Regions from separate parts of the Homo sapiens genome. Here region 1 is linked to region 2. Evidence: fine-mapped expression QTL. A gene starts in region 2. The other region holds a variant in brackets. All regions are shown on one strand. Distances are from middle to middle. Region 1 overlaps LINC02235 (long intergenic non-protein coding RNA 2235). Region 2 holds the start of LINC02235 (long intergenic non-protein coding RNA 2235).

Evidence for each region. PIP is the estimated chance that this variant, and not a neighbour inherited with it, causes the effect.
Region 1: its variant is fine-mapped to the expression of LINC02235 in thyroid (GTEx, PIP 0.95).

What each region holds. Positions count from the first base shown.
Region 1 is chr8:81,883,707-81,900,341 of GRCh38, reverse strand. The region is part of intron 7 of LINC02235 (long intergenic non-protein coding RNA 2235); the gene reads right to left. Among named protein-coding and RNA genes, the nearest start is that of LINC02235, 49 kb to the right of the region's middle. RefSeq lists enhancers at 1,763-2,536, 4,087-4,861 and a silencer at 16,386-16,552. The variant G/A (reference allele first, on the strand shown) is at 9,817.
Region 2 is chr8:81,835,283-81,851,917 of GRCh38, reverse strand. LINC02235 (long intergenic non-protein coding RNA 2235) reads right to left here and starts at 9,299. Exons shown (of 8, transcript NR_170320.1): 1 at 9,247-9,299; 2 at 7,347-7,467; 3 at 2,811-2,927; 4 at 2,399-2,532. It overlaps SNX16 (sorting nexin 16), which reads left to right and starts at 9,733. Exons shown (of 8, transcript NM_152836.3): 1 at 9,733-9,796; 2 at 11,836-12,306. The coding sequence starts at 11,932. RefSeq lists enhancers at 9,049-9,318, 9,750-9,799, 9,727-10,659 and a silencer at 10,130-10,179.

The DNA.
Region 1 (16,635 bases), 48 kb before region 2:
ATATATCCTTCTTTCCTGTTCCTTACCCTGATCACACTTGGTTTATTGATGGCATTTCCACCAGGCCTAACTGCCATTCACCAGCAAAGGCAGGCTATGCTATAGTATCTTCAACATCTATCCTTGAGGCTACTGCTCTGCCCCACTCCACTACCTCTCAGCAAGCCGAACTCATTGCCTTAACTCAGGCCCTTACTCTTGCAAAAGAGACTACACATCAATATTTATACTGACTCTAAATATGCCTTTCATATCCTGTACCACCATGCTGTTATTTGGGCAGAAAAAAGGTTTCCTCACTATGCCTCTTTAATAAAAACTCTTCTCAAGGCCACTTTACTTCCAAAGGAAGCTGCAGTCATTCACTGCAAGGGCCATTAAAAGGCATCAGATCTCATCACTCAGGGCAGCGCTTATGCTGATAAGGCAGCTAAAAGAAGCAGCTAGCATCCCAACCTCTGTCCCTCACGGCCAGTTTTTCTCCTTCTCATCAGTCACTCCCACCTACTCTCTCAGATGAAACTTCCACCTATCAATCTCTTCCCACACAAGGCAAATGGCTCTTGGACCAAGGAAAATATCTCCTTCCAGCCTCACAGGCCCATTCTATTCTGTCATTTCATAACCTCTTCCTTGTACGTTACAAGCCTCTAGCCCGCCTCTTAGAACCTCTCATTTCCTTTCCATTGTGGAAATCTATCCTCAAGAAAATCACTTCTCAGTGTTCCATCTGCTATTCTACTATTCCTCAGGAATTTCTCAGGCCCCCTCCCTTCGCTACACATCAAGCTTGGGGATTTGCCCCTGCCAAGGACTGGCAAATTGACTTTACTCACATGCCCTGAGTCAGAAAACTAAAATACCTCTTGGTCTGGGTAGACACTTTCACTGGATGGGTAGAGGTCTTTCCCACAGGGTCTGAGAAGGCCACCATGGTCATTTCTTCCCTTCTGTCAAACATAATTCCTCAGTTTGGCCTTCCCACCTCTATACAGTCTAATAACGGACTGGCCTTCATCCCTACTATCTTCTGTCTAGTCATACTCCTATTCACTATTCTCAACTACTCATAAATGCCCTGCCCTTGTTTACACTGCTGGTTTACACTTTTCCTCCAAACCATCATAACTGATATCTCCTGGTTTTACCTCAAACTGCCACCCTTAAGTCTCTCAAAGTGGATAGAAGATCTTCAGTGGCAAGGTACACTCCAATACTTTCACCCTGATGAGGTCCTATTCTTTACTTTTACATTCACTCTTACTCTCATTCCTGTTCTTATGCCACCTTCTACCTCTCCCCAGCTATCTCCACCACACTATCAATTTCACTCACTCCCTCCTAGCCGTTTCTAATCCTTCTTTAACAAACAATTGCTGGCTTTGCATTTCTCTTTCCTCCAAAATTGCCGAGGCCTTGACTTACTGCTGAAAAAAGAGAACTCTGTATATTTTAAAATGAAGAGTGTTTTTACAAAACTAAATCAATCTGGCCTGGTATATGACAACATAAAAAAACTCAAGGATAGAGCCCAAAAAACTCGCCAACCAAGTAATTATGCTGAACCCCCTTGGGCACTCTCTAATTGGATGTCCTGGGTCCTCCCAATTCTTAGTCCTTTAATACCTGTTTTTCTACGTCTCTTATTTGGACCTGTGTCTTCCGTTTAGTTTCTCAATTCTTACAAAACCATATCCAGGCCATCACCAATCATTCTATACGACAAATGTTTTTTCTAACATCCCCACAATATCACCCCCTACCACAAAATCTTCCTTCAGCTTAATCTCTCCCACTCTAGGTTCCCACGCCACCCCAATCCCACTCAAAGCAGCCTTGAGAAACATCACCCATTATCTCTCTATACCACCCCCCAAAATTTTCACTGCCCTAACACTTCAACACTATTTTATTTTATTTTTCTTATTAATATAAGAAGACAGGAATGTCAGGCCTCTGAGCCCAAGCCGGCACGTATACATCCAGATGGCCTGAAGTAACCAAAGAATCACAAAAGGAAGTGAAAATGGCAGGTTCCTGCCTTAACTGATAACATTACCTTGTGAAATTCCTTCTCCTAGCTTATCCTGGCTCAAAAGCTCCCCCACTGAGCACCTTGTGACCCCCCGCCCCTGCCCGCCAGAGAACAACCCTCTTTGACTGTAATTTTCCGCTACCTAACCCAAATCCTATAAAACGGCCCCACCCCATCTCCCTTTGCTGACTCTCTTTTCAGACTCAACCCACCTGCACCCAGATGAAATAAACAGCCTTGTTGCTCACACAAAGCCTGTTTGGTGGTCTCTTCACAAGGACGTGCATGACAGAATTCATCTACAGTTTGAGAAATGTTGGGAAAATAGTAAAATTATAATGACAATGGAATCAGATGGCTGCTGCTGGAGACCATGCTTTAGAAAATATGATTTTAAAGTAGCTGAAGATGATTAAATAGCATAAAGACTAAGGGTAAAAGAAGGAGGATTTCAAGGACATCAAGGAGATACTTGGTGGCAAGTTGACACCTTCTACCCTGGAAGAGTAATGATTTATTTTGCCTGCTATAAACATATTAAGATATAAGTTGCAATTTCTTTTTCTTTTCTTTTCTTTTTTTTTTTTTTTTTTTTTTTGAGACAGAGTCTCACTCTGTTGCCCAGGCTGGAGTGTAGTGGCACAATCTTGGCTCACTGCAACCTCCACCTCCTGGGTTCAAGCAATTCTCTTACCTCAGCCTCCTGAGTAGCTGAGATTACAGGCACATGCCACCATGCCTGGCTAATTTTGGCATTTTTAGTAGAGACAGGGTTTTGGCATGTTGGTCAGACTGGTCTTAAACTCCTGGCTTCAGGTGATCCGCCTGCCTTGGCCTCCCAAAGTGCTGGGATTACAGGCATAAGCCACTGTGCCCAGCTGCCATTCCTTTCTATAGAGCCTTAGACTATATTATTATCCAAATGTTTAAAGAGTATTTGCTCTGTCAACATGGAATCCCACACAAAGTCACATCAGACCAATGGAAGCACAGCAGTAGACACATGAGCTTGAGATTCCATGGTCCTCTCACATACAGAATTACCCAGAATCTGCCAGCCTGCTAAAGCAAAGAAAAGCCTACTCAAGAAGGTATGGCTAAGGCACCAGCTCAGAGACAATACCCTATAAGAATGGGCCACTGTCCTCCAGAATGCAAATGCACATACACACACATATACACATACACACATATACATAGATAATGGCTGTGTCCTCAAGACATAAATGCATGGGTCTGAAAACCAAGAGATGGAAGAAAAGATCATCTCACTTATATCACTCCCTGTGAAACACCACATGGGGAATTTTTGTTTCCTGCCTCACAGTGCTGGGCTCTGCAGGTTGAGAAGTCCTGACTACCAAAGAAAGAATGCTTCTACTAGGGGAAACAGCAAGAGTCCCCGTGAACCTTAATCTATGGCTGTCAGTCTAGCACTTTGGACTTCACATAACAAGGGAGCAGCAGAAAAGAAAAATCACCTGGTTGGTAGAGGTAATTGAATTTGATCATCAGGAGGAGATAAAGCTACCAATATACAACAGAGGCAGGGAGAAACATATTTGACACATAAGTGAGCCACTTAATGTCACTTGTTATTCCCTTGCCCAATTTTGATGGTAAATGGATAAATACAGAAGCCATGCCTGAAAATGGCATAGAGACCAGGAACAGTACACTCCCTAAGAAGTACTATGACAGGATAACATAGAAGGAGCATAAAAAATAAGAAGATAAGAATATTAGATGAAAGTCATGCAGAAGTCGAAACAGGCTTTCTCTAAACTCAGAGTATATCTATTTCTCCTATAACTGTTAACAAAAAGAGTCAAACTGTGTAAAATATTTGAAAAGATTTATTCTGAGCCAAATATGAGTGACCATGGCCCATGACACAGCCCTCACGAGGTCCTGAGAACATAAGCCCAAGGTGGTCGGGCACAGCTTGATTTCACACATTTTAGAGAGGCATGAGACATCAATCAAAATACATTTAAGAAATACATTGTTTTGGTCCAGAAAGGTGGGTCAACTGAAAACGGGGTTGGGGGTAGGGGGAGGCTTCCAGGCTATAGGTAAATTTAAACATTTTCTAGTTGATAATTAGCTGAGTTAGTCTAAAGACCTGGGATCAGTAGAAAGGAAATGTTGAGGTTAAGATGAAAGATTGTGGCGATCAAGGTTCTTTTGAAGTCTTACAATGGCTGCCCTTAGAGACAATAGATGACAGGTGTTTCCTATTCAGATCTTTAAGAGGTGCTAGACTTTTAGTTAATCTCTTTAGGATTGGGAGGGCCTGGAAGAAAAAGATCTAGCTATGTTAACAGATTCTTTACAGATGCAAATTTTCCCCCACAAAGGACAGCTTTGCAGGGCCATTTCGAGATACCGCAAAGAAATATGTTTTGGGATAAAAATTTTTAATTTTCTTTCTTGTCTCATTATATTATGCCAAAGTCAGGTTGGAAAGTAAGTCATGATATATAGAGTTAAATATAACCCATCTGATAAGAATTTATGTTTTGTAGGGCATGACTCCCCAGACCCCTTAGATAGGAATTTGGGTAAAACAAAAAAAAATCAGCTCTTAGTCCTCATAACCTTCACCAGATTCCCCAAGGAGTATGATCTATTATCATTGAAAAAAAGATTACATTATAAAGAATGCAAATTAGTATTCATTGCAAATTTACTATGTGTCAGTTTTCTTATATTATTTCACTTTAATGCTCATTAAAAACCCTGTAAATTAAGTCTTAATAGCCACAGATTAGGAGATTGAGTTTTAAGAAATGAATAATGGAAAGACATTTTCACTACAATATATCCACATGGAAAATTAATATGAGCTTCAGACAGATAGAATAAAACCATGGAAACTGAAAACAGAACTGAGGTCAGGCATGATGGTTCACACATGTAATACCAGAAATTTGGGAGGCTGAAGTGGAAGGATCACTTGAGACCAGGTGTTTAAGACCAGCCTGGACAATATTGCAAGACCCTATCTCTAAAAAATAAATAAAAATAAAAATAAGAAAACAGAACTGAGATGACCAAATATAAGTACTCAGAAGTAGCACTGTGCAATGTAACTTTCTAAGATGATGGGGGAATGTTTAGTATCTGTGCTGTCCAATATTCTATATATTTGTTCTGTTCAATACTGTAGCAACTAGCTACAAGAAGCTACTGAGCAATTAAAATGTGGCCAATGCAACTGAGGAATTAAATTTCTACTTTTATTTAACTTTAATTATTTAAATTTGAATTTAAATTGCCGCTTGTATTACATGGTACAACTCTACAGGATCCCTGGAATTTTTCTTGTCTCTCTAATAAAATATACCCAGAGGTTAAGATGCTAATTACAAGAAAAGCAATGCAACTCTGAATTTCCAGAACAAGATTTCTAGTATACTGATCACACTTTTTCTTCTCCCTCAAGTAATGACAAAATTGGACACATTGCATGCCAAGCTGTAATTCTTAAATGGAGCAAATGTATTATATACTTCGATGAAAGACTTTTAGCAGTCGCTGCTAAGTACAGAGACACACTATTGCACAGAAGCATTCAGAGCTACTTTTCATTTTTCAGTCTGAGTAAATTCTTTCCTTCTCAAAAAATGTAGTGATACGTTAATGTAAACAGCTGGTTTCTATTTTTTGTTTGTATGCCTGTTTTTGTTTAGAGGGACTAGTGTTTAGTTTTTCACAAACTCATTTTTAGATGTCTCCAGTTTATGGTCTACTGTGTGTGCAATCTCCTTCTTCAGGAATTTAGACCAAAAACATTTTTTCTGATTAGGTTGCTCATCATTATTTTCTGAGCTTCCAATTAAGTATCATCTGGCAATCTGGCAATTTCATGAAACATTACAGCAAGCTGTATTTCGATTTTTGCCGTTTATCTTTTAACTCTCATTAAGGAGAATCTATTTTGAGTCCACTGCTGAATTAAGACCTCCAAATATTTCATAAGATTTGATACCTTGCCAAATCCACAAAACCTAAATTCTGCTTAAAAGGATTTTTTAAATTGAGTCCTATGACAGATCATTTACCAAATTGAGTACATTTAACTAATTTTCTGGCTGCTCTCATTCAATCTAATAGATCACATTGAAATCCTTAAATTCTGCCCATTTTACAACCCCCACAAATATTTCAGAGTTAACACTATTTTTCTTCAAGGGAAGCATGAGGTAAGAAAAATATACCACATAGAATGTTAACAATGTACCTATCTCTATCTCCACATACATATTCACTTGTCTCACCTCCTTTACTGAGATGTAGGACATATGGATTTTCAAAGACTAGGTATAATAAAACTCTGTCGTATAAATGGGCCAAACTTTCATTGTACAGTTACTGTGACTTTCAAGAAACTGGCTAGAATCCAGAAGCCACGCAAAAAGAATCTAAAAATTATTAAACTCTCTAAAGCCAACAATTCTGGGTTTTTATCTTGATTCTGTTGTTGAACATTAGAAAATTATTTAATGTATCTGTACCTCTGTTTCTTCATCTATAGAGTGGAAATAATAATTATAATACCTTCTTCATAATGTTGCTTTAATAGTTAAATGAGTTAATACTTTCAAAGCACTTCAAATAGTGTCTGGCATACAAGCAAACCAGCATAAGTTAACATAAATATGATAGAATCATGGTATACTGCTACTAAATGTAACTTTAGATGTTGTTCATTTTATGTGTAAATTTAACACTTGTATGATGTTAAAAATACTTTTTATACCTGCTTTTGGGATTTTAGTATTTAAATTCTGAAAACAGCAAGAAACTTCTAAATATTTATTTATGATTTGATAATAAGCAGAATTTACTTAAAAGAGAGCTGCCATCCAATATAGAAATTGGTATTGTGACATTTCTGACACTGATATAAATATGAACTTTATGTTTCTAATGGAAACTATGCCTGCAATTCTCATATGATAACAGGTATGGGCAGTGATGTACCTACAGTTACCATCTTCTTGATTTTGAGCAAATTTTCTTATTCAAGCAATATTACTTTATCACTTCTATTTCAGACATTCTGCTAAGTATGGGCAAAAAATATTAATGAAACTGCTTTTATAGTATTTACTGTAGCAGAGGATAAGACATTAAAGAAGTCACACAAATGTGAAATTTCAATTGATATATATGAATTTGAACATATTAATTTAGGAATTTGACCTAGTCAGGAATTTTCTGTAAAGAAGAGATAAATAATAAGACTGAGTCCTAAAAGGTGAGAGAAAATTAACTAAATAGATGAAAGAAAACCATTCCTAAGAAAATAGCATGAGCAAAATCTCATGGAATGAAGTGAAGAGAGTAAGGTAAATGAGATCTTTAACAAAGCTGTCTAGTAGGTAGAGAACAGATCATGCAGAGATTACAAGGCCATGTTAAGGAGTTTTGCCCACATTCTATGACCAATGGAAAGCCATTGAAGGATTCAAACCAAGATGTGGAGAAGAGAAAAACATGACCCAGTTGACTTTTAAACAAGATCAGCCAGGCTGCAATGAGAAGATAAACTGATAGAGGAGTCAAGAGTTAACTATTAAATAAATCAGTTGGGAAGCTATTTCAACATGATGCTTCATCTAACAGGTGAGTGGTGGAGATGGAGAGAAGTATAAATTCAAGAGATACTTAGGTATCTTGATGATTCACCAGATGTGGAAGATGAGAAAGAAGGAGACATCAAAGATGATTTCTAAGTTTCCAACTTGTATAACTGAACCAGATTTGGGAAAAGAGGACCATTAATTTTTTTTTCTTGGTCATGTTGCATTTGAAATGCCTTTAAAATATTCAAGTGAATATATTAAATTGGCAGCAGGAAAATGTCTGATTATAAACATAATAAAGTAACTGGTACCAGACTATTCCTCCCATGGTAAATGACTGTAAAATTGGACAACACACATAGCGATATTGTCAGACATTAGTCAAAAGGCAGCACAAAACTCTGATCCCTGAGAAAGAGGAAACACACAAAGTAAGCCCCATAATTGGCCTGAATTTCTACAGGGGAAATCTTTCCAGACTATAATGCAGGGAGGCAAGTTAAGCAGAGCACAGCAGTATCATTGAGCTGAGGAAGCAAAAATCAATGTTTAAAGTTGCTAAGAAGGCTGAAGTATGTGGAACTGGCTACTGCAGACAAGGAAGCCATGAAGACAAAGACCTCACAAATCTATATAGGGGTCCTCTTACTACATTGGCTAAATTCTAAAGCTGTGCATGCACATGGTGAGACTCAGGAAGATGGTAGAGAACAACTGCTAGGTATTTGTGAAATAAAATGTATATCTTTGTGGTTTCAAATTGGTTGAAGAAATAGAAATTCTGACCAGCAACCATGGAAAGATCTTGCTAAAAACCCCAGGCGCTCAGTTGAGACTTCTTACAAAGGCCATAGCTTAGAAGCAGAACTACTCTAGCTATAGAAGAAGATCTACCCTAGACCTTTAATAAAGTTGATATAGCTTAAAAACAGGTTTCAAAGAATTATGATGATCCACCAGTAAATTTCCTGCCTGCCAGCTCAAAATCCAAACTTTTAAAGAAAAAAAATCATACTTTTATAAATATGTTTTACAATATCTAGTACACTATCAAAAATTACTAGATGTGAAGAAATAAGACCATAGCAGCAGAGGCTACTTTAAGATATCCCAGCAGCTAAACCTAAGCCCCAATGGTAAAGAAAAAGAATAAAAGCACAATGCACCCAAGACAGAGAAAAAAAAAAAAAAAAAAAGTAACAATAAGCATAAAAAGAAGAAGAGAAAGAACAAATAGAACATCAAAACTACTAGATCAGACAGCATCCAAAAATAAAGAACCTATGATTTAAATACCGTGAGATTTCTGTGAGTCAAAAATTACTAGATATTTTTCTTTAAAAAATTAAATAGTTTAATTGAAAGAATGGCCACTATTGATAACCCAATTAGTGTCTTTAAAGATCCAGAGGAAAACATATCTCAAAAGAAAAAAAAATTTATGGAGAAGTTAATCATAAGGAAAAAGGAAAAAATAGATCTAAAATATCTAATAAATAAATCATGAAATTTCAGGGAAAAAGTAACAAAGAAAAAATTAAAGACATTATAATGAAAAAAATTTGTGATTTTAAAAAATGTTTTGAATCTGTACGTTTAAGGTTCTTACTGAGGTTCAGGAAGATTTTACAAGACATACAGTAGGGCATACATGGCAATAATGGAATTTGAAGGTGTAGTATGCTGAATAATGACCCACAAAGATGGCAATTCCTAATCCCTGGCACCTGTGAATGTTACTTTGAATAGTAAAGTCTGCAGGTGTGATTAAATTGAGAATCTTGATGTGAGATTTATCCTGAATTATCTGGATAGGGCCTAAATGCCATCATATGTGTGTATAAGAGAGCATCAGATAGATACTACACACAGAAGAAAAGGCCAAGTGACCACAGAGACAGAGATTGGAGTGATGTCCAGTCTCAAGGAATGCCAGCAGCCATCAGAGCCTGGAAAACAAGATTTATTCTGAAGGCTATTCATTGCTCGTCTATTTTAATAATCCCCTAAACATTTAAAGCAAATGTCTGTAGCACATTCAGGAGCTGGCAGAGGCAAAGGGTGGAATCCCCCCTAGAGCCTCTAGAGGGAGTGCACCTCTGCCAACACCTTGATTTCGGCCAGGTGATACAGATTTCAGCCTTCTATTCTCCAGAACTGTAAGAGAATAATTTTTTTGTTGTTTAA[G/A]CCACCCTATTTATGATAATTTATTACAGCAACCACAGAACACTAACACAGAAGGTAAAGAGAAAATTTTACAAGTTTTCAAGGAGCAAAAACAAGTTACTCAAGATTGAAAATAAATGAAAAAATATAATTCCATAAGAATGAAGAAAACAGGAGAGTAGAGAACAACAAACAAGAGCTGTCAAAATTATCATGAAAGATATGAAACATAATCATGGTACAATCTACATGTAGTTCAGTGGTCAAAATATTCTAAAGATTGATAGTGAAAACCAAAAATAGTGATAAAACTACATTGAGAGGCAGTAGGAAGGGGAAGTCATGTAAATAAGATCCATCCTTAACTACAATAACAGAAGCCAATAGATACCTAAAATTAATAAAACAAAAGCTAGCAGCAGAAGCAGATTCTTTAGAAATAGTGGAAATTATACAGATGCAAAGAAGCGCGTGCAGCTCTCCTCTAAAGGGCAGGATCTGGGGTGGAGAAGAGCGGGGTAGAAAGCTACTGTGTTTGCTATAAGTTTTTAAACTGATTTTTCCTTACGTACATGTACTGGATTGATTAAAATTCAAACATAAGAACACAATTACCACAAATAACAAGAAGCTACTGTCTTCTGGCTCGTCACAGTAATTGAGGCCTCCCTTCTCTTTCTCGATTCTAGGGGGAAATAAGCCAATGGGTCATTAGCTCATTGTGACAGCCTTAAGAGACAGGAACCTGCAAGATCCTGACAGAGAGAAGTCTTTGGAAAGGCAGTAGGGGAAATGCTTCGAAAGGTCTGAGCTCTATTCACCAACTGGGCTGCTACAATTGGTATTACGCATTCATCAGAATGGACCTTTCTCCAACTGTCCCAGGACTGAAAAGATATCGATCCTGGCTACTCATGGCCTAGGAGGAACCACACTGGAGCTGCCCAAGCTCCAGGGATAGAATATTCTATCACCGAGGGTTTTCTGCTCTGAAGCCAAAAGTGGAAGAATGAGACCTGAAAAACTATTCAGTCTTAGCTTTTCCTATTATGGGCTTGTGCCCACTAAATAGGATGTTTTTGTTTGTTTGTTCAAGTGCCCAATACTAAAGGGGGTATCGATTTATTTGAACTAGGCAAGTAGACTAAAGTGAAGTGCAGTAAGTGATGGTTAATCAATAGAGTCAGCCTTCAGAAGCTATTCTGCAACACTCCAGAGTAACTGTTTGCTATTCACAAAGTCTCACTGGAGAGTTTCTTCAGCTTCTGACCATCACAGCCTGCTTGGCACTTCCCAGATCTCTCTTACAGTTATCATTCTGTCAGTCTTTTAAACATGGCCATTCAAACCCAGTCCATAGACCTGCAGATAAATATCAAACTGCTGGCTTTATTCTCAGCTCCTTCTCTTTCAAATGCAACACACACATACATACATACACACATACATATACACACACATACGTACATCAGTTAGTACAAACAAATACTAGAGAGGTGTTTTCCTCATTACCGCTTTTGGAGTTCAGCTTGATGAATTCAAAATATATGTGGCATGAGCAAATGAGAAATAAAGAGACAAAGAAGTGCCCTGTCAAGTACAGTAGCAAATATACATAGGGCTTACTACGTGTCAGGCACTTGGGACCTATAAGTAACCTATATTAACTTATTTAATTATCACAATTGCATGAGATAGTTATTTTCATAATCCTCATTTAAGACATAGAAATCAAGAGATAAAAGATTTAACTTGCTCAAGGTTGCACAGGTAGTAAGCAACAGAAGAGGGATTTGAACTCAGGCGATCTGGCTCTAGAGTCTGTGTTCTTCACCACAATACAATAATGCCACTCAAGCCATATTTAGGTTCTTAACGTGATAGACTGTGCACGCTTGGTTTCTCTCTAGTTGTTCCTAGCACAATGTGATTATACCATTGGCTCACAAATAAAAGTGTCTAATAAAATCTGCTCAGGGGCATGGGTAATTTCCATAACATCAAGCTACCTTGAAGGTTTTCAAGGATTGGTGTCATCCAGTGTGATGTCATTATCAAGGACAAGAATATTGTTACAGCTAGCTGGTGATGCTGCCTCTCCCTTTCTGGAAAAATACGAGTTAATCTGAGGCCCAACAGACCTTTGCCTGGTTTGCCTGTGGAATAATCCAATTCTGACTCAAGGGCAGGTTTTGGTTGAAAAATACAGTTATGGCTTTGTGGAATTAGGGAAATGATAACGTTTCTTGATTTGTTGACTACTAGAGTCATGAGAAGTGAAAAAGTACGGTGAATCTGAGATTACATGCTCAGAGAAGATGGTACAGTGTTTATGACTAAGCCTGACAGAAAACTGGGGAAGATGGGAAAACTTGTAAACAATGATGAGTAAATCTGCTTTGGCTATACTGAGACTGTCAACAAAGACATCTGTTAGCTTAGTAGCTCTGTGAGCTATCAGTCAAGTGTTTATTGACTGCTTCTCGGGAAGATGCTCAGTGGTAAACATTCTATGAAGACAATCACATTATATAAATGCCATCAAACATGTTGGAGAGATTTCCAGCTAACCTCGCCTGAGTACATCTGAGCAGTTCATTAACATCCGGAGAAACATCCAGATCTGAAACTCGTTATTTTAAATCTTTCCAAAGTGAGACACTCAATAAAAAGATCCCAAAATAAAATATGTTTTCTAGTATTTTGATAAATCAACAGTGCTGTGTTTTTCACAACCATCTGATTCTAGCCAGGATTTTAATGCAGCAGTTTGAGCAAACTTGGGAGCAATAATTTATTTCATTTTCTTGAGAATGCACATTGATTTCCTACATAGAAGCTCCGTAGTTCATTTGATTATTTCTAAGTAATCAGGAGCACCATTTTAAACTAGACTACCCTTTTTTCATAGTCTAGTCTAAACTCTCTTTAGGATGCAAAGATTTAATTTCTATTAGTAAGAAAACAATCACTTGTATTTTATATGCATAAATAAAAAAATGTCTCTCAAATATTGGTTATATTATAGGCTAATGTCTCCATTTATAGAATAATTTACTGCATATACTACAGTTACATACTTTATGCAATAAGGTATTGATTTTCAAACTGCTTTTCCAATGCCCAGAGTTCTAGAGTATTGAGCCTTGTTGGGTGGAAAAAAAGGAGAGAACTAAGTGGCCAAGAAAATTGGACTCTGGGTCCACCAGCATCATTCTAATCAATTTTTCAATCTATTCCTAAGTTGCAGTTTTACATATGATATTATTTGGCAAAAATACTTTCTGGCTAAAAATATATAAACCACCACTAATGGAATTTTGTTATAAAAAATTGAAAACTCATTTCCAGTCTTCACTCTTTACAAAAGATTATTATGTTTAGTGGTTTGCAATATGCTTCAATTATTCTCAGCTAATGGTTTATGTAATGTAATATTAAGTAAAATCTCAACTGTAATCAAGAATGACAAAATATTTGAGTCACAATTTAAGATAATATACTCTCAATCTGAAAAAAAGATAAATATTTAGATACTTTTTTCTCAAATAAGTATATTACCTTTCACAATAATTATCAAAATGGGGGGGAGGTTCTTTTTTTTTTAACACCTATCAACAATCATTCTTAGTTACTTGCACTTAAATTGACTATTTCTCTCTAAAATATTCTACTATCTCCACTAGTTTATGTTTCTATTCTTCCACATGAATAAAAATGAAATTATATAATATGCCTGAAGTTCAATAATTTAATTTTACATTAATCCGTTTGCAGTATTCCTAAATTTATTTGAAGTGTTATGTTATCATACAGAAAATTTTTCCACCTTTATAATGAAAACTATTTCAATAATTTTATTGATTCTTCACAATCTATTTCAAGTTATATAGGTAAGAAATATTCAAAACCTCCTAATACAATTTCCTCATAAATGTCAGTGTGTGACCAAGTAGAAAGTACATATACATGAGAATCATTTTGTGCAAAATTAAGTTACAGATTCTCTATTATTCTTCACCATCTTCTTAAATTAAGACAAACTAATAAATTCATATTACTGAATGGAGACTGAAATTATTTTACCTAACACACTTGTTTATTGTTTAGCATAAAAAAGGTAAAGGCCCTACAAAGAGAAATTACTTCCTATTTAATAGTAATATTGTGACCAAAACAAAGTCTTCTATCTAAAGGCCTTTCAACGACATCATCTTGGAAATCAATATTATAAGCAATAGTATGTACATATAGGTATATATGTATAATAAGGAATTGTAGCTGCATGTCTAAATAGGCTTCCTTGAATTCCTCCCCAAGAAATTAAAACAATAATTAAAACACATAGTACACATTCAATTTACAAGTTTTTACAAGATTCTAAAAATAAGTTGTCATTAACATTCAAATTAAAAATAACAAGCATTAAGGCAGTAAATGGTATATAGGAACTAAGGTTGCTTATGCCATGCAAATTTTCCCATTTGTGGAAGGTCTTTCAGTTGGGACAAAATGAAGAGAGAGACAAACAGCTTCTTGGCTTCCCTTTGCCACTGGCTGCACAAGGCACTAGCTCTTTCCTGTGGCACTCCTGGATCTCTTAACTTTCCCAGGGTTTTGGTTATAGGAGTCATTTCTTTTCTTTTATTTTAGAGATAAGTTATCACTATGTTGCCCAGGCTAGCTTCGAGCTCCTCGGCTCAAGTGATCCTCCTGACTCAGCCTCCCGAGTAGCTGGGACCATAGGCATATGCCACTGCAACCAGCTTTTTTATGTAGCAGTCATTTCTAGCTTTCAGAAAATGTGCATCTGCATCATGGGTGCATTCTCATTTGGGTACTTGACTCTCCCATTCCATCCCAAAACCTATGAGAACAAATTTCTTTGTATGATACCCATTTTGGTCACTCTAACAGCCATATATTTTCCCAATTTAAATAAATATGTTGTCCGGGCACAGTGGCTTACACCTGTAATCCCAGTACTTTGGGAGGCCGAGGCAGGCGGATTAGTTGAGGTCTGGAGTTCGAGACCAGCCTGGCTGATATGGTGATACCCCACTTCTACTAAAAATACAAAAATTACCCAGGTGGGGTGGCACACGCCCGTAATTCCAGCTACTCAGGAGGCTGAGGCAGGAAAATCCTTTGAACCTGGAGGGCAGAGGTTGCAGTGAGCCAAGATTGCGCCACTGAACTCCAGCCTGGGCGACACAGTGAGACTCGGTGTCAAAAAATAAATAAATATGTTTATGTTTATGTGTGTTTCTGTCACCATAGCTAGATAGAATTTTTTCAACAGACAAGTGGACAATTAGAAAGTCTAATTTAGTAAATAGACAAGATAGCATACACAAAATTCACCTGGCGCTGGGGGCGGAAGACATTAGGGATAATCACTTGGAGACCAGTAAAGAAAGACATATCTTCAAAAGCAAATAAAAGTGATGTTGAATCTGAAAAATGTGTGTTCACAATTGAAGAAAACATGTATTTTCAAAGACATTAGAGACCAGTGTCTAAGATGAAGAACTTCTGAACACTTCAAGAAATGGAAAATCATTCAGAGGTACTCAAAAGCCTATTTGACTACCCATCAAGAGATAGTGACTGAACCTGAATAAAGAGGTAAAAATGTTAATGAGTAAAAATCATCAATCTTTGTGAGCACATGGTGAAACGACCACATTTATATAGCTACCTGGTAGTGTATAAATTAGTAAATTTTGTAAAAAACAAAACTTATGAAATATTTCCTATATACAACAGAATGTATATAATGCATATATAATATTTAGAGTAATAAAACATTGTATCTACCAAAACGAGTGGGCTAGATGATCCATATTTTTGAATGAAATATCCCCTCTGTACACTATTTAAAACAACAGAAAAAAATCTTGTTCCTATTACCAACTCATATGCGAGGCCATAGACAATAATGCCAACCTAGGATTGAGTAAGTATCAGTGTATAAAGTGAAATCCCTATAAGGGACTCTGGTTGGGAATTCAAGTGCATATGTCTAACTATACCATAGTCTATATGTGGTCAATACATTGACCAATTTTCTGTTGTTTAAAGCTAAAAGCTAAGTATGACACAAAGTAGTGACGATTTGTTTATCATAACCCAACAATTAATACTTGTCTTACAAAAAGAATTTTCAATCATATAAACTTCAGTAAAATATGTTTCTAAATAAGTTCAAAAGCAAATATGAGTAACATTTCATTATTTATCTCATTTAATTTTTTTAATTTTTTTTTTCGCCTCTAAGAACCCATGTTTATGAGGTCCCAGAATGGAATTTAAAATTTAACATTTAAATTTAAAGAATTTAAAATTTAACATTTAAATTTAGAGAATTTAAAATTCACCTGCTTTTAAGTTCTAGGAGAGATTATCCAACAATACGATGAGTCTGGAAGGTGTGTTAGTTTAAACCCTAAGAAAATCTAAGATGGGATTAAACATGCAAGAGGTTCTTTGGGGGGAAATGCCTACGAGGGATGAGGGGAAGGGAGACAATGAAGGAGAGATGCAAGTCTGGTGCTTATTTGGTAGAACTGGGTAAGAAGAGTCTCAGGTTGCAGCCTCTTATTTCCAAGAGAGGATTGACAAGGCCAATGTGGGACCTCATAATGGGCCCATTAGAGGAGTCTGCACGAATGGACTAGCACAGTCCCTAAGCAGTGCTCAGTCACTGACTGGGAGTAGCCCACAAGTAGCAAAGCTTCTGAGTAATTACAGAGTTGGATCGAGAGAGGCAGAAATTGGGGCAGTCAGTCAATTATGTTCCCTGCTGCAGAAGATGCAAGCAGTGCATTTTCCTGGCTG
Region 2 (16,635 bases):
TGATAGTTTGCTGAGAATGATGATTTCCAGCTGCATCCATGTCCCTGCAAAGGACATAAACTCATCCTTTTTTATGGCTGCATAGTATTCCATGGTGTATATGTGCCACATTTCCAGTCTACCACTGATGGACATTTGGGTTGGTTCCAAGTCTTTGCTATTGTGAATATTGTCGCAATAAACATACATGTGCATGTGTTTTTATAGTAGCATGATTTATAATCCTTTGGGTATATACCCAGTAATGGAATCACTGGGTCAAATGATATTTCTAGTTCTAGATCCTTGAGGAATTGCCACACTGACTTTCACAATGGTTGAACTAATTTACACTCCCACCAACAGTGTAAAAGCATTCCTATTTCTCCACATCCTCTCCAGCATCTGTTTCCTGACTTTTTAATGATCACCATTCTAACTGGCGTGAGATGGTATCTCATTGTGGTTTTGATTTGCATTGCATTTCTCTGATGACCAGTGATGATGAACATTTTTTCATGTGTCTGTTGGCTGCATAAATGTCTTCTTTTGAGAAGTGTCTGTTCATATCCTTTGTCCACTTTTTGATGGGGTTGTTTTTTTCTTGTAAATTTGCTTAAGTTATTTGTAGATTCTGGATATTAGCCCTTTGTCAGATGGGTAGATTGCAAAGATTTCCTCGCATTCTGTAGGTTGCCTGTTCACTCTAGTGATAGTTTCTTTTGCTGTGCAGAAGCTCTTTAGTTTAATTAGATTCCATTTGTCAATTTTGGCTTTTGTTGCCATTGCTTTTGGTGTTTTAGTCATGAAGTCTTTGGCCATGCCTACGTCCTGAATGGTATTGCCTAGGTTTTCTTCTAGGATTTTTATGGTTTTAGGTCTTACATTTAAGTCTTTAATCCATCTTGAGTTAATTTTTGTATAAGGTGTAAGGAAGGGATCCAGTTTCAGCTTTCTACATATGGCTAGCCAGTTTTCCCAGCACCATTTATTAAATAGGGAATCCTTTCCCCATTTCTGGTTTTTGTCAGGTTTGTCAAAGATCAGATGGTTGTAGATGTGTGGTCTTATTTCTGAGGCCTCTGTTCTGTTCCATTAGTCTATATCCCTGTTTTGGTACCAGTACCATGCTGTTTTGGTTACTGTAGCCTTGTAGTATAATTTGAAGTCAGGTAGTGTGATGCCTCTAGCTTTGTTCTTTTTACTTAGGATTGTCTTGGCTATGCAGGCTCTTTTTTGGTTCCATATGAACTTTAGAGTAGTTTTTTCCAATTCTGTGAAGAAAGACATTGGTAGCTTGATGGAAATGGCATTGAATCTATAAATTACCTTGGGCAATATGGCCATTTTCATGACATTGATTCTTCCTATCCATGAGCATGGAATGCTCTTCCATTTGTTTGTGTCCTCTTTCATTTTGTTGAGCAGTGGTTTGTAGTTCTCCTTGAAGAGGTCCTTCACATCCCTTGTAAGTTGGATTCCTAGGTATTTTATTCTCTTTCTAGCAATTGTGAATGGGAGTTCACTCATGATTTGATTCTCTGTTTGTCTATCATTGGTATATAGGAATGCTTATGATTTTTGTACATTGATTTTGCATCCTGAAACTTTGCTGAAGTTGCTTATCAGCTTAAGAAGATTTCGGGCTGAGACTATGGGGTTTTTCTAAATATACAATCATGTCATCTGCAAACAGGGACAATTTGACTTCCTCTTTTCCCAATTTAATACCTTTTCTTTCTCTCTCTTACCTGATTGCCCTGGCCAGAATTTCCAACACTATGTTGAATAGGAGTGGTGAGAGAGAGCATCCTTGTCTTGTGCCAGTTTTCAAAGGGAATGCTTCAGTTTTTGCCCATTCAGTATGATATTGGCTGTGGGTTTGTCATAAATAGCTCTTATTATTTTGAGATACATCCCCATCAATACCTAGTTTATTAAGAGTGTTTAGCATGAAGGGCTGTTGAATTTTGTCAAATGCTTTTTCTGCATCTATTGAGATAATCATGTGGCTTTAGTCATTGCTTCTGTTTATATGATGGATTATGTTTATTGATTTGCATATGTTGAACCAGCCTTGCATCCCAGGGATGAAGCTGACTTGATTGTGGTAGATAAGCTTTTTGATGTGCTGCTGGATTCTGTTTGCCAATATTTTATTGAGGATTTTTGCATTGATGTTCATCAGGGATATTGGTCTCATTTTTCAACTGCCACAGAGAAGGAGAGGTCGTAAAGAGAGTAGCCTCTGATATCCAGTCAGCATGAATAAACCTTAGGTTCCCTGCTTCCAGACCCTATTTTCCTGCCTCATATTCCCCCTGAGAGATGTGATTCCCATAAATCTTTATGGGAAGCAGAGGGATTGATGGTCTTTCTTCTGTAGCTGCTTCATGCTAACTTGGGGTGCAATCCCTACCTATTGCTGATCATGGAAATTTTTCCCTGCTCTATCCAGTGGAGGCAGGGTAGTTTATTGATCGCTGGGGGTGCTATCTTCATTTGGAACTGGCTGGCAATGTTGTTGCATGATCATATGAAGCTCAATGGTCTCTAGGTGAGAGGAAATGAATTTGGTTAAAAGATCTAATGGGAACTTCAGGGGGTGGATACCTATGCTATCAGGAATGTTTGTTATAGGGAGAAATTAAAACATTCTGCTTAATTGCTACAAAGGGAGTGATTCCAAACATTTGAAAAAAGAAAAACTGCAAAAATATATAAAAATATGGCTATTATTATCCAGCCAAATATATAAAAATATGGCTATTATTATCCAACCTACAATAACTATGCAACAAAAACACCAAGGAAAGTTGGTAGGCATTTACTTATCTTTTGGCTGTCTTCTAAACAGGCACTTCAGGTCTTCCACAGGTTCACAGGTGTAGTGGCTGAAGGAAACTTCAGGTTCCAGGTCTGAGGCTTCAGGTATCACAGACTTGATCCTTGAAAGATGTATCCAATTATTTAAATCCTAATACTTTGACCATGGAAAGCATGGCCAGCACCACTGAAAATGTTCCCTTCCATTTGGGCTGTAGTTGTTGAGCAGGCGATCCCTCCTTCCAAGTTTTAACAAGTATCTTATCTCTTGGCCTGATTTTGGGATGCTGGTTAGCTCCTGGTATGGGGAACCTTTGAGTTCCAAACTTTTGTGAAAGCCTGCTGAAATTGTCCATTAACTAGGTATTTCACTAAACCAGCTGTTTCTGGATCAGTAATTAGATCATTAGTTAAGAATGGCCTTCCGTATAACATTTCATATGGGTTTATGTTAATTTTTGCTCTAGAGGTATTGCAGATCCTTAAGAGGGCTATAGTCAGTAAGCTGACCCAAATTTCTGATGTTTCCTAACATAGCTTACCTAATGCTTGTTCTAGAGTTTGGTTAACCCTTTCTACTTTCCCGAAGAATTGAGTCCTCCATGCTGAATGTAAATAGTATTTGATTCTGAAGGTCTTAGCGACCCCTTTAGTTATTTGGGAGATAAAGGATGGGCCATTATCTCTTTGGAGACTCTGAGGTTACCCAAACTAAGGGACTATTTATTTGTAAGAGAAACTTTATAACCTCAATAGCCTTCTCTGTTCTGGTAGGATAAGCTTCGACCCAACCAGTAAAGGTATCTATCAGGACTAACAAAAACTTGTATCCTCTACAAGCGGGCATTTGGGTGAAGTCTAATTGACAGTGTTCCCCTGGGTAAGTTCCTCTCCTCTGGACTGATTCTATTAGAGGAAGCATTTTGTTTCCTGGACTGTTAAGTGCACACAGTGAGCAGGATTGACAGACCTGCTTAACCACTGAATCTAAGTTAGGCCCAATGAAGAGCCTGTTAACCATGGCCAGGGTGGCATCTCCACTGGGCTGTTTGAGGGAGATTTAGTTTGATTCCATATACCACCCGGATACTTATTTTTGTCCCCCTTGTTCCTTTATTAACTGTTCTTCCTATAGCGTGTATTCAGGATCCATTCAGGAATCATAGAAAGGAAGCAGTGCTAGGATCTGTTGGGATTGCACCCTGAGGGATACGGCTTTAGCTTCTCTATCAGCCCTTCTGTTCCCTTGTGCTATAGGAAGTAAGTCCCTTTGATGCCCCCTACAATGGATTATAGCTACAGCCTTTGGCAGGTGTATTGCTTCCAACAGCTGAAGAATTTCAGGCCCGTGCTTTATTGGGGAGTATTTGCTATTTAGTAGTCCCTTTTCTTTCCAGATTGTAGCATGAGCATGAAACATAAGGAACGCATATTTAGAATCTGGATAGATGTTAAGCTTTTTCCTTTGTCTCAACATTAGTGCTCAGGTAAGAACAATGATTTCAGTATTTTGTGCTGATGTGCCAGGGGGCAGTGGCTGGGCTTCAATAATGGTGTTGTGATTTACCATTGCATATCCAACTCAGCACTCCCCATTTGACACAAAACTACTGCCATCTGTGAACCAGTTATCTTCAGAATCTGGGAGAGGCTAATCTTTTAAATTAGGCCAGCTAATATATGTGTGTACAATGACCTGCTCACAGGAATCATCAGTTATTGGGCCTGTGGGTAGCAATGAAGCTGGATTCAAGGTGTTACAAGTTTTAAGGGTTACATCTGGATTGTCTAGCAGCATGGCCTGGCATATGTTTAACCTTTCCTCCATCATCCACATGTGTCCTTTTATCTCTAAGACTGGCTTTACCTGATGGGGGGTTAGAACTTCCAGTGGTTGGCCCAGGGTGATTTTAGTGGCTTCCTCCACAAACATAGCAGTGGCTATTGCCTGCAGGAAACTTGGTCATCTCGAGGCTGCTCCATCCAACTTCCTTGAAAAGCAGGCAGTTGGTCTGGGTTCTGATCCTAATTTCTAGGCTAGCACTCCCACAGCTACGCCCTTCTCAGCTACATACAAGAAGGGCTTAGTTATGTCTGGGATGCCAAGAGCAGGAGCCTGGTAAGGGCCTATTTTAGCTTGGTGAAGGCTTCTCATTTCTGGGGTCAATTCCGTTAGCTCATTTTCAGGCCTCCTTGTTGCTTCATATACGAGCTTTGCTACAAGCCCCAAATTTGGTACCAATATTCTGCAAAACCCAGCCATTCCCCAGAAAGAACAAAGCTGCGCTTGGTGGCTGTGGGGCAACCACATATGGCTTGCACTCATTCTGGGGATATTTGTCGGGTTCCCGGTGTTAAGACATACCCTAAATATTGGATCCATTGGAGGGTAATCTGAGCCTTCTTTTTGGACACTTCACATCCTCTGTCAGCCAGGAAATTCAACGTTTTTATAGTATTTTGGTCAGAAGCCTCCTGGGTTGGGCTACACACAAGAAGTTCAACCACATACTGGAATATACTTCCATTCTCCAATTGCAGATCCCTCAGATCCCTCTCTACAGATCAGGCTAAGAAATCAGGGCTATCCTGAAAGCCCTGAGGGAGTACTGTCCAAATGTATTGTTTTTTTTTTTTCTGGTATTAGGATTTTCCCATTCAAAGGCAAAAAGGTATTGGGATTCTGGGGCCAGAGGAATAGAGATGAAAGCATCTTTTAGGTCTAGGAGAAACATTTTGCATCCCCTGGCACCTAAGCCAGGAGGGTATATGGATCCACCACCAATGGGTGGACGGGGATAACAGTGTGATAAATTATTCTGAAATCCTGTACTAGCAGGTATTCCCTCAAGGGCTTTAGAATGGTTAAGATGGGGGTGTTTCAGGGAGAATTGCAGGTTTTTAAGAGCTCATGGGTAAGCAATATCTCAACTATGGATGCCAGGCCTTTTCTTGCTTCCAGCTTAAATGGGTATTGTTTTCAATTGGGGCAATAGCTGGGGTCTTTAAACTGGTATTTTGACTGGCACTGCTGTTTTAGCTTTCCCTGGTGATATGGTTTGGCTGTGTCTCCACCCAAATCTCATCTTGAATTCCCACATGTTATAGGAGACACCCAGTGGGAGGTAATTGAATCATAGGGGAAGGTCTTTCCCTTGCTGTTCTCATGATCATGAACAAGCCTCACAAGATCTGAGAGTTTTATAAGAGGGAGTTTGCCTGCACAACCTCTCTCTTTGCCTACTACCATCCACGTAGGATGTGACTTGCTCCTCCCTTGCCTTCCACCATGATTGGAGGCCTCCCCAGCTATATGGAACTGCAAGTCCATTAAATTTCTTTCTTTTGTAAATCATCCAGTCTCGAGTTTGTCCTTATCAGCAGTGTGAAAATGGACTAATACACCTGGCTTCCCAGCATAACATGCTAGCAGGTTAACCTGTTTATTAATGTGGTCTGGGATATTGTCTGTATTTTTGACTATTAGCAATTTTACTGGGTAATGCTTAAATTTGTAGTAGTGCCCCTATTTTAATGATAATATCGCTTCCCAACAGGTGGACAAGGCAGCTTGGAACTACTAAAGATTTATGTTGGAACATTTGTTTCTCAAACTGACAAAGGAGAAGTAAAGAATCTCGTTTGTGGCTTTCCTTCCATTCCCGGAACACTCTTAGACTGGGAGGAAAGTTTTCCTGCATAAGCAGTAAGGACAGAGTAATTCGCCCCTGTATTGGAAAAAAAAAACTGAATTTGGGTACCCATGACATCTAGTTACCCAGGGCTCTGCAATAGTAATTATGATGTTCCTGGACAGGGGCAGTGAGGAAGACTCTAGGCCCCTTCAGTCTTCATCTAATTCCTCCTTTCACACTGCTAGACTTTTGCCTAACTGAGCCCCTTGGTGGGAGCGGGTGCAGTCAATCCTCTAGTGCCAGAGACCCCTCTTAGTACATTAGACGTCTCTGACCTTAGATTGGTGCCACCACCACTTTGGAATGATTCCAACCACCACTGATGACCCACTGTGAGTTTTCCCTCTTGTCCCTGGATGAAGGTCTCTACTTCTAGAATTAACTTTCAGACAAACCTTTGGATTTTTTTTCCTATCACACTTAAAACAATTCTTTAACTTTCTAAATTTGGACAAGATTAAATTGTACATAGATTCCCTTTCATGAATCCCCTCCATGAGTTACACAGACCACAATATGCCCAAACTCTGTGACTTATCCTTAGCCAGTCAAGTAGGGGGACGGAAGAATTTAACATAAGGAAAGAAGGCTTAAGCCACCTGAAACATGTGTGAATTTTCCCTGGACAGGCTGCCACTGCCAATTGCATCACTCATAGGCATCAGGGACTACAACTGGAAAAGACAGAAAAGAGTCCTTCCCCTTTCTGGGCAAGGCAGCTATCCCCATTCACTCCTGGGCCTTCAGTTAACACCAGAGAGTGGCCCCAGTTGCCTTCAGTTACCAAGGAGCTACTAGGAAATGGCCACTGAAAGACTGAAAAAGAAAAGAACTCAGGTTCCTCACCTGAACCAGGTGGTGGCAGTCAGGTGCTTCCACATGGACCTTTTAGTTTCACCAGAGAGTGGCCCTGGCCAGAAACCTGCAGTTGCCTCCATGCTTAGGCACTGTCCATCAAGGATCCCAGCTTGGAAAGGAAAAGGGAGAGAGAGAAAGAGGAAAAAGAAAAATACAAATCCCAAACTTTGGGCTTACCTTCTGGCTGGCTCACCAAAATATGTTACCAATTGAGGGTAGTTGTCCAGGTTCTTGGTGTTTTGAACGAAGAATTGGACAGAACACACAAACAAGGCATGGAAAGCAGAGATTTATTTTAAATGAAAGTATACTCCACAGAAGGAAAACAGACTCAGTCAAGGGGTTCAAGAGCATCAGCTACAGAATTTTCTGGGGCTTAAATACCCTCTAGAGGGTTCCCATTGGCCTATGCCCAGTCTGATTGGTTGTGGAAGGAGACCAATCAGAGTGAAAAGTAGGCCCTCAACCAGTCTGATTGGTTGAGGGAGGGGCTCTATCAGAGGTTCTTTCATTTTTCAACTGCCACCCAAAGAAAGGAGGGTTGCAACTGCCACGCAGCAACTGCCACGCAGAAAAAAGAGGGGTTGAAAATGGAGTCGCCTCTGATATCAGTCAGCATGAATCAGCCTTAGGTCCCCTGTTTCCAGACCCTATTCTCCTACCTAACATTGTTTCTACAGAATTCTATTTTTATTTCATTCACACTAAAAGGGCAGAATCTCTTAAACCAAAACCATCATCATGTCACAAACCAGACTATTTTCCAACCTTCATTTCAAAATGACCACTATCACCTTTTCTCACTCTTAGTCGGGCAGTAGAATAGGGTCCGGAGGCAGGGAACCTAAGGCCCATTCACGCTGACTTCCTAGAACTAAATCAAAAGGAAAACTCCAACTTTCCAAGCCCAAGTAACAAAAAGACCAGAGGCTATTCCCTTTGCAACCCCCTGCCCAACCTTCTAGGCCCTTGGTATCTGGGCCTAGTCTTCATTTCCATAGGAGTACAACTTTGTAACTTAACTTTAGCCTCTGATTGGTTGCAGGCTACTCCTTAATTTACAGAGGGTGTAAACCAAGTAACCAATGGGAAATCTCTAGCGGATATTTAAACTCCAGAAAATCCTGTAACCAGGGCTCTTGAGCCACTGGCTGGAGGCCATTCCCACTCTGTGGAGTGTACAGTCATTTCAATCTCTGCTTTCCTTGCTTCATTCTTTCCTTGCTTTCTTTGTGCGTTTTGTCCAATTCTTTGTTAAAAAAACCAAGAACCTGGATGACTTGTAGTCAAGACCCTCCATGGGTAACATTGGGACTATACAAAAGCCTTAGAAATCGTGGAATGATTTTTCAACCACATTATCTGATTCTAATGATGAACAGACCTGTAGACCGGTCTGAATCTTGGGATTTGCCTATCAAAAAACTCGGCTTTCCCTACTGCACAGGTCTTCAGAAGCGCATGTCTAACAAGGCTAATATTCCATCATCGGGATCAAATTGCTCACCGGATAGTAAAAAGACACTACAGAATTTCAGGGGTTCTCTGCCAATGAGAACTTCTGAATTATGTAGAACGGATCAGCTACTAAGCAGTGTTCTATCTTCCTACTCTTCTAATCGATTGTCATCCCTTAAAGCGCTGCTAATTCTAGAAAACAATCTATAACCTGTTAGAATCAGCGCAAGCTGGTGATGACTACAAGTCCCATGATGCAAAGTATGAGCACGGACCAATGTTGGTCGCAGTTCCTTCTGGGAATTGTAGTCTTCTCCTGTTTGGCAAACTAGGTATTGTAGCCTCCATTTCTCAGAAGTTCAGTTGGAAAACTAAAGATAGTGCAGAGAATGTCGATTTCCTGCCACAAGATTACATTTATCTTCGCTACCTGAGCGCCCAGCCGATCAACTCCAGTCGCTCCTCCGGTGGGCGGGCGCCCATGCCGTGACATCACTTCCGGCAGAGATGTGTGTGTGACGCTCTCTCTCTCTCTCTCTCGCTCTCGCTCTCTCCCTCGCTCGTTTTCTTTCTCTTTCTCTCTCTCTCTCTCTCTCTCTCTCTCTCTCTCTCTCTCTCTCTCTCTCTCTCTCTGTCTCTCGCTCTTGCCCTCTCTCTCTCTCTTTCTCTCTGTCTCTGTCTCTCTCTCTCTCTCTCTCTCTCTCTCTCTCTCTCTCTCCCTCCCTCCCTCCCTCCCTCCCTCTCTCTCTCTCTCTCTCCCCCCCCCCCCCCCCCCGCCCAGTTCGGCCCCTCCTTCCACACAGCAGGGATCTTGGGCCCGGGCAGAGACTGGCTGAGGCGGGGAGCAGCTGCTTTTGGGGCGGGGGTGTCACGTGAGGCTTCTCGCTGCTGAGGGAGGAGGCGAAAAGCTGCGGTTAAGGAGAGTCCGGTTTAACCGTCACCGGGAAGCGCGCTCGTTCGGGATCGCCGAGGGGGCTGAGGTAAAGACTGGGTCATTACCTCAGGACAGGCGGTCGCTGTCCCGGGTTCTCGTACGGGTGACACCTGCAACCTTGATGTCTGGCGGGCGGCAAGGGGCTCCGCGGGAGAGTGGAGAGGCGCCGCAGGAAGCCCAGCCACCTTCAGGCCACCGCCGACCCCACTGTGCGTCTGGGAGGCGCTGGGCGCGCACCGGTCAGCGGAGGCGGGAGAGTCTGTGATCCCAGGGAGCTGCGGGTCTCGCCGCCTGCAGTGCGGAAGACCCGTGACCGGCGCAGACCCCGGCCTTACCTTCCGAGGGTCGAACTGTGCCTGGTATTTGCCTCTTTCCTCCCGCCCACGGGGTTGCTCAGAGTCGGGCCACCTCACCTGAGGTTTTCCAGAGTGAGAATGAACTGAGCGTCCTGGGAGCAACTCCGCATCAGGGTAGAGGCGAAGACGCTCCTAATGAGCACAGCACGTTTTTTTGTTTGTTTGTTTGCTTGTTTTGTTTTTTTAACGCTTGGGTAGCGCTCACATCTTCGGACGTCAGTGGTTGTGTTGATATGTATTGATATGCGACCTCCCCCCAGCCAGGCGGCCTCAGGTAGTAGAGTGGCAAAGGCCAGGTAGATCCCTCGGACCTTGAGAAGGTTGAGATTTCAGACTTACTTGTTTTTGGGGAGGCCGTCAGGCGGAACCGAGGAGCGGTGAATCAGCAGCTAAAGTTTCATGAATCTTTGATAATGGGGAAATGTTGCCGAGAGCCACTTGAGTTAAAAATCTTTTTTTTTTTTTTTTTTGAGACGGAGTTTTCCTCTTGTAGCCCAGGCTGGAGTGCAATGGCACGATCTCGGCAAACTGCAACCTCCGCCTCCCGGGTTCAAGCGATTCTCCTGCCTCAGCCTCCCAAGTAGCTGGGATTATAGGCCTGCGCCACCATGCCCGGCTAATTTTTGTATTTTTAGTAGAGACGGGGTTTCACCATGTTGGCCAGGCTAGCCTCGAACTCCTGACCTCAGGCGATCCACCCGCTTCATCCTCCCAAAGTGCTGGGATTACAGGCGTGAGCCACAGCGCCCAGCCCAGAGTTAAAAATCTTATTTCAGCATCTTTCCAAGTCCAGGTGACTCATTTCTTACCTTTCCCACCAGTAGAGTTTCGTATGAAAAGTTGGGCAGTTATTGTTGTGTGTAGTCTTGTCATTTTGTTGGTCTGTAGTTGTTACAGTTTCTTATGAGTTTATTATTTAACAAAGTAATAGTAAACCATTTCTTCTTTGTGTTATGATACTATTCTGACACAAGATATACTGGTCCGTTTGATAACAGATTCTTGAGTGTAAGTTATAAAGATTTAAATACCCTCAGTTTATCGTAGAGCAGAATTAGTGATGACCTGTAAGCTGTGAAGAACGGTTACAATTTTCACTATTTAATTTTGTTGCATATAAGTTCAGTGTTCACTGGGTTTTATTTGAGTAACTTGACCAAGTGTGTATTTTTAATCCTGGGTTCTATAGAATTATACTATGTAGCATCAAAGCATCTGGTTCATTGTTACTACTCTGTGTAAATCTTTATAGTTTCACTAATTAAATTGAAAGGTAATGTGAATAGATTTCCTCCCTTTCTGATTAAATCCAGAGGTAATGTAAATAGTTTTCTTCCTTTTCTTTTTTCTCTCTTGTACTGAATGTAGTACTGTCAAGATGATAAGCATGGAATAAAGCTTCAGAAGGGTCTTTACCAATCTTTCTCCTACCAACTTTTACATACATGAAATCAGGTTAAAATGAACTTTACAGAAATACTTCACAAGGGAATAAAGTAGAGGAAAAAGGGATAACATGTAACATGGAGTCAAGGAAAAAGAGTGTGAAGTAGTTTTGCTCTCTCTATCTTGCAAATAGGAGTCCTTAAAGACAACTGGGAGAAGGGGTTTGAGGTATGTTTTCATTCCAAATAAAATAATAGTGTCATAAAATTGAAAAGAATACTTTTCTTTTGAATCCTGCTGCACATTAAAGACTAACCTTTTAATATGTCCTTTTCATTTTTAGATAGTGAATTCCTAAGAAGAAAATAATGGATTGCATATTAGTTGTTCTCTAAGTGGACTCAACAGTGTGCAAGCTTGTTGGAAAAGCCAAAAGAAGATGGCAACTCCTTATGTCCCAGTTCCTATGCCCATAGGAAACTCTGCTTCCAGTTTTACAACAAACAGAAATCAAAGAAGTTCTTCTTTTGGCAGTGTCTCAACAAGCTCAAATTCTTCTAAGGGCCAGTTAGAAGACTCAAATATGGGTAATTTTAAACAGACAAGTGTTCCTGATCAAATGGATAATACTTCATCTGTCTGTAGCAGTCCCCTCATTAGGACTAAATTTACAGGTACAGCTTCTTCCATTGAGTATTCTACTAGACCAAGAGACACTGAAGAACAAAATCCGGAAACAGTGAATTGGGAAGATAGACCATCTACACCTACTATACTGGGTTATGAAGTGATGGAAGAAAGAGCTAAATTTACTGTAAGTATTGACTTCTGCTGTATAACACTACAAAGTGAAAGATTGGCTAATCTCTGTGTTCAAACCAGTGTTAAATTAATGTAAACTTGTACTTATAATTTCTTGAATATGAAATTCTAATGGTTTTTACACCACTGAATTCTATCATGTTGTAGTAAACTTTTGCTTTACCTTAATAAATTTTCACAAACCAGACACACCTATGTAACTATTAATAGCACATAAATCAAGGAAAAGAACGTTACTAGAATCTTAAATGCTCTAGGTTCTCTGCCAGTCAGGACCCATTCACCCAATACTTTTGTATAGCCTAGATTAATTTTGCCTATTTTTGTACTTTATCTAAATGGAATTATATACTCTTTTTGCATCTGGTCTCTTTTCTTTAGCCTTGCCAAATTACATGCCCAGCTTTAAAAGATATTGGTGAACAGTGTTTCAGAATGGTTGTACTGATTTATACTCCTAAAAGCAGCATATAAGAGTTCCAGTTGATCCATAGCTTCCTAACATGTGATATTTTAACATTTTTATCATTTCAGCTGTTCTCATGGGTACAGAGTAATATCACATTGGTTGTGGTTTTAATTTGAATTTTCTTAATGACTAATTGAATTTAAAATTTTTTTGGGCTGTTTGGATATTCTCTTGTGAAATATCTGTGCATGATTTTTGTTCATTTTTCTTTTGGGAAGTCTCCCTTTTGATTTGTAGTTTTCTGTGCACTTTGGATATAATTTTTTTTTCAGATACATGTATTATGACTATCCTCTCACTCTGTGGTTTGCCTTTTCAATTCCTTAATAATACATTTGATAAACAAAAGTTCTTAATTTTAATTTGGCTTGATTTATTACTTTTTTTAATGGCTAGCACTTTTTGAAATCTTTGCCTACTCCAAGGCTACAAAGATACTGTCCTATGTTTTCTTCTAAAATCTTTATTGTTGGACCTTTCACATTTAGATTCGTAAACCACCAGAATTGATTTTTGTCCATGGTGTGAGGTGAGGGTCAAGTCTTTTTTTTTTTTTTTTTCCAGATGGGACCAATTAATCAGGCTTTTATTTGAAAGACCACTCTCTCTCCTCTTCATTTTCAGTGTTGTCTGTGTCATAAATCATGTGACCATAAATGCATGGGTCTGCTTCTGTGTTCTATTTTTTCATCCTTTACTAATTTCACACTGTCTTAATTAATAAAGTCTTATAATAGGTCTTGATATGTAGCAGTGTATGTACTTTAGCTTTTTTCTTCAGGATGGCCTTGGCTATTCTTCACCCTTTGCATTGAGATTTTGTTAGATCTATAGATTAATCTGGGGAGAACTGACATCTTTACTGAGTTTTCAAATCTATGAACCTAATCCATTTACTTAAGTCATTTTTTTCTAGTAATGTTTTGTTGTTTTTGGTGCAGGGTTCTTACATCTGTTGGTTAGATTTATTTCAGGATATGGATGTTGTTTGATGTTCTTGTGAGAGACATCTATTTTTGTTTTCTATTTACTGCTATTTTATATAATTTGTCCTTTTATGTTTACATATCCAGCAACCTTGCTCAACTCTCTTATTAACTCAAAAGGTTTACTTTTTTGGTAAGACTTTGTTCTTTTAGTAAAGTTTAATGTTTACTTCAATGTTTCATGCTGTAAATTTATGACAGGATGGGAGGACCTCCAAGGAAAAATTGTTGAGATAATTTATGAAGAGGCAGTCTTTAAAATTATCATAAGACTGTGATATAGGAAATCTTCAGGGAACTCTGTCTCTCTCTCTCTTTTTAGAAAATTTTTAGAAAATATAAACTGATGGCCAATTTCCTGAATTAAGAAATAGGCATTTATTGAGTTGATACTATGGTCTGAATGTGCGTTCCTTCAAAATTCATATGTTGAAACCTAACCTTCAAGGTGATGGTATTAAGAGATGGAGCTTTTGGAAGCCAGTAGGTCATGGGAGCAGAGCCCCCATAAATAGGATTAGGACCCTTAAAAAGAGGCCCCAGAGAGCTTTTTGTCCTTTACACATCTGAGGACATAGCTATAAGGCACCATCTATAAACCAGAAAGTAGGCCCTCTCCAGATACCAAATCTGTTACTGTCTTGATCTTGGACTTCTCAGACTTTAGAACTTTGAGAAATAAATTTCTTTGTTTACAAGCTACCAAATTTATGGTATTTTGTTATAACAGACCTAACAGACTAAGACAGATGATATGTGTGAAGATGCAAGTATTTGGCCAAATACAAGGTGGTGTTATGTAAAGCATTTCAAGAGACTGGAGAGGAGGAAGTAAATGACAGATATGAAATTAGTCATATTCATTTATTTATTAACTCAACATTTTTTTAATTACCTATTATGCCTCAGGCACTGTTCTGGGTAATAGTGGTACAGCAATTTGAATGAAAGCATGATAAGTAAGTAAATAATAAGACGCCTGATATGTCACATGGTGATAAGCACTATAGAGAGAAATAAAACAGAGAAGGAAGACAGGGAGTTTCCCCAAATCTGGGGTTGGGATTTAAATAGCACTATCAGTCATGGCCTCACAAAAAGATGTTAGTGCTAACAGGGAATGAGCCATGAGAATGTGTTTTCAACACAGATGGGACAACTACAAAGATCCTTGTGGCTGACAGCAGAGTAAGCTGTGGGAGGTGTAGGGAATGAGATGACAGGCAGGGAAGTGTGGCACACAGATCACATAGGGAAGGAGGCACTGTGAAGACTTTGGATTTTACTCTGCATGAGATGAGAATCTTTTAAAAGGTTTTTAAAAGAAGAGTCATGTGATCTGACAATGTTTTAAAAAGTTCATTCTGGCTACTGAATTGAGACTGGTTTGGTCGAGATGGGGGACAGTCAAAGCAGGAAGCAGTTAGTAGGTTCTTTTAGTAATCCAAGGGAAACATGATGGTAGTGTGGACTGGGGTGGTGGAGGAAGTCCTGAGAAGTGATCAGGTTCTGGATTTGTTTTAAAAGTAGAACCGGCAATATTTCCTAATGATTTGGAAGTGGAGTGTGGGAGAAAGAGAGGTCAAAGGTGACTTCAAAAGTTTTGGCCTAAACAATGGGAAGATATGGCTGCCATTTAATTAAATGACAGGTTTTGAGGGATGATCAAAATTTGTTTTTAGACATGCTAGATTTGATATGTCTGTTCAACATTGAAATGGAGATGTTACATGTGTTAATGTGTACACATACATATGTAATGTGTGTGTATACATATAAGCTGAGTTTAAGGGAGAGGTATAAGCTGGAGATACAAACTTGAGAATCTTAGGTTTGTAAAATAATTTTTTCTAGATATATTCTTTTGAATTGCTCTCATAACTGAAAAAAGTATTAGGACTCACTCTTGATCTGATAATATATAAGGTGTCTAGTCTTTAAAAAGGTTGTTTAAAGACAAAAATTGACTAGGATGTGTAGTGAGTAGAATTGGGAAGGAAGCATGCTATGGACCTCTTTGATTGGTAATGTTTCATTTCTTGCTCACTGATATGGTTTGGCTGTGTCCCCACCTAAATCTCATTTAATTCCCATGTGTTGTGGGAGAGACCTGGTGGGAGGTAATTAGGAAGTATAGCTAACTTGCTTTTGATTTTACAAGCTGATAGGCAAAAGGGACTTGCCTTGTCTCAGATGAGGGACAAGGGGCAATCATTGGGGCAGGTCTTTCCCATACTGTTCTTGTGATAGTGAATAAGTCTCACAAGATCTGATGGTTTTAAAAGCGGGAGTCTCCCTGCACAAGCTGTCCTCTCTTGTCTGCCAGCATGTGAGACTTGCCTTTCACCTTCCATCATGATTGTGAGGCCTCCCAGCCATGTGGAACTGTAAGTCAAATAAACCTCTTTCTACAGTCCAGGCTGAGGTAGTCTTAGTTGGAGATGAGGAACTTGTTGGGAAATGGAGAAAAGGTAATTCTTGTTAGGTTTAGCAAAGAGATTGGCGGCATTTTGCCCCTGCCCTAGAGATTTCTGGAACTTTGAACTTGAGAGGGATGATTTAGGGTATCTGGCGGAAGAAATTTCTAAGCAGCAAAGCATTCAAGAGGTGACTTGGGTGCTACTAAAGGCATTCAGTTTTATAACGGAAGCACAGCATAAAAGTTTGGAAAATTTGCAGCCTGACAGTGCAATAGAAAGTAAAATCCCATTTTCTGAGGAGAAATTCAAGCTGGCTGTAGAAATTTGCATAAGTAATAAGGAACCCAATGTTAATCCCCAAGACAATGGGGAAGATGTCTCCAGGGCATATGAGAGGTCTTCATGGCAGCCCCTCCCATCACAAGCCCAAAGGCGTAGGAGGAAAA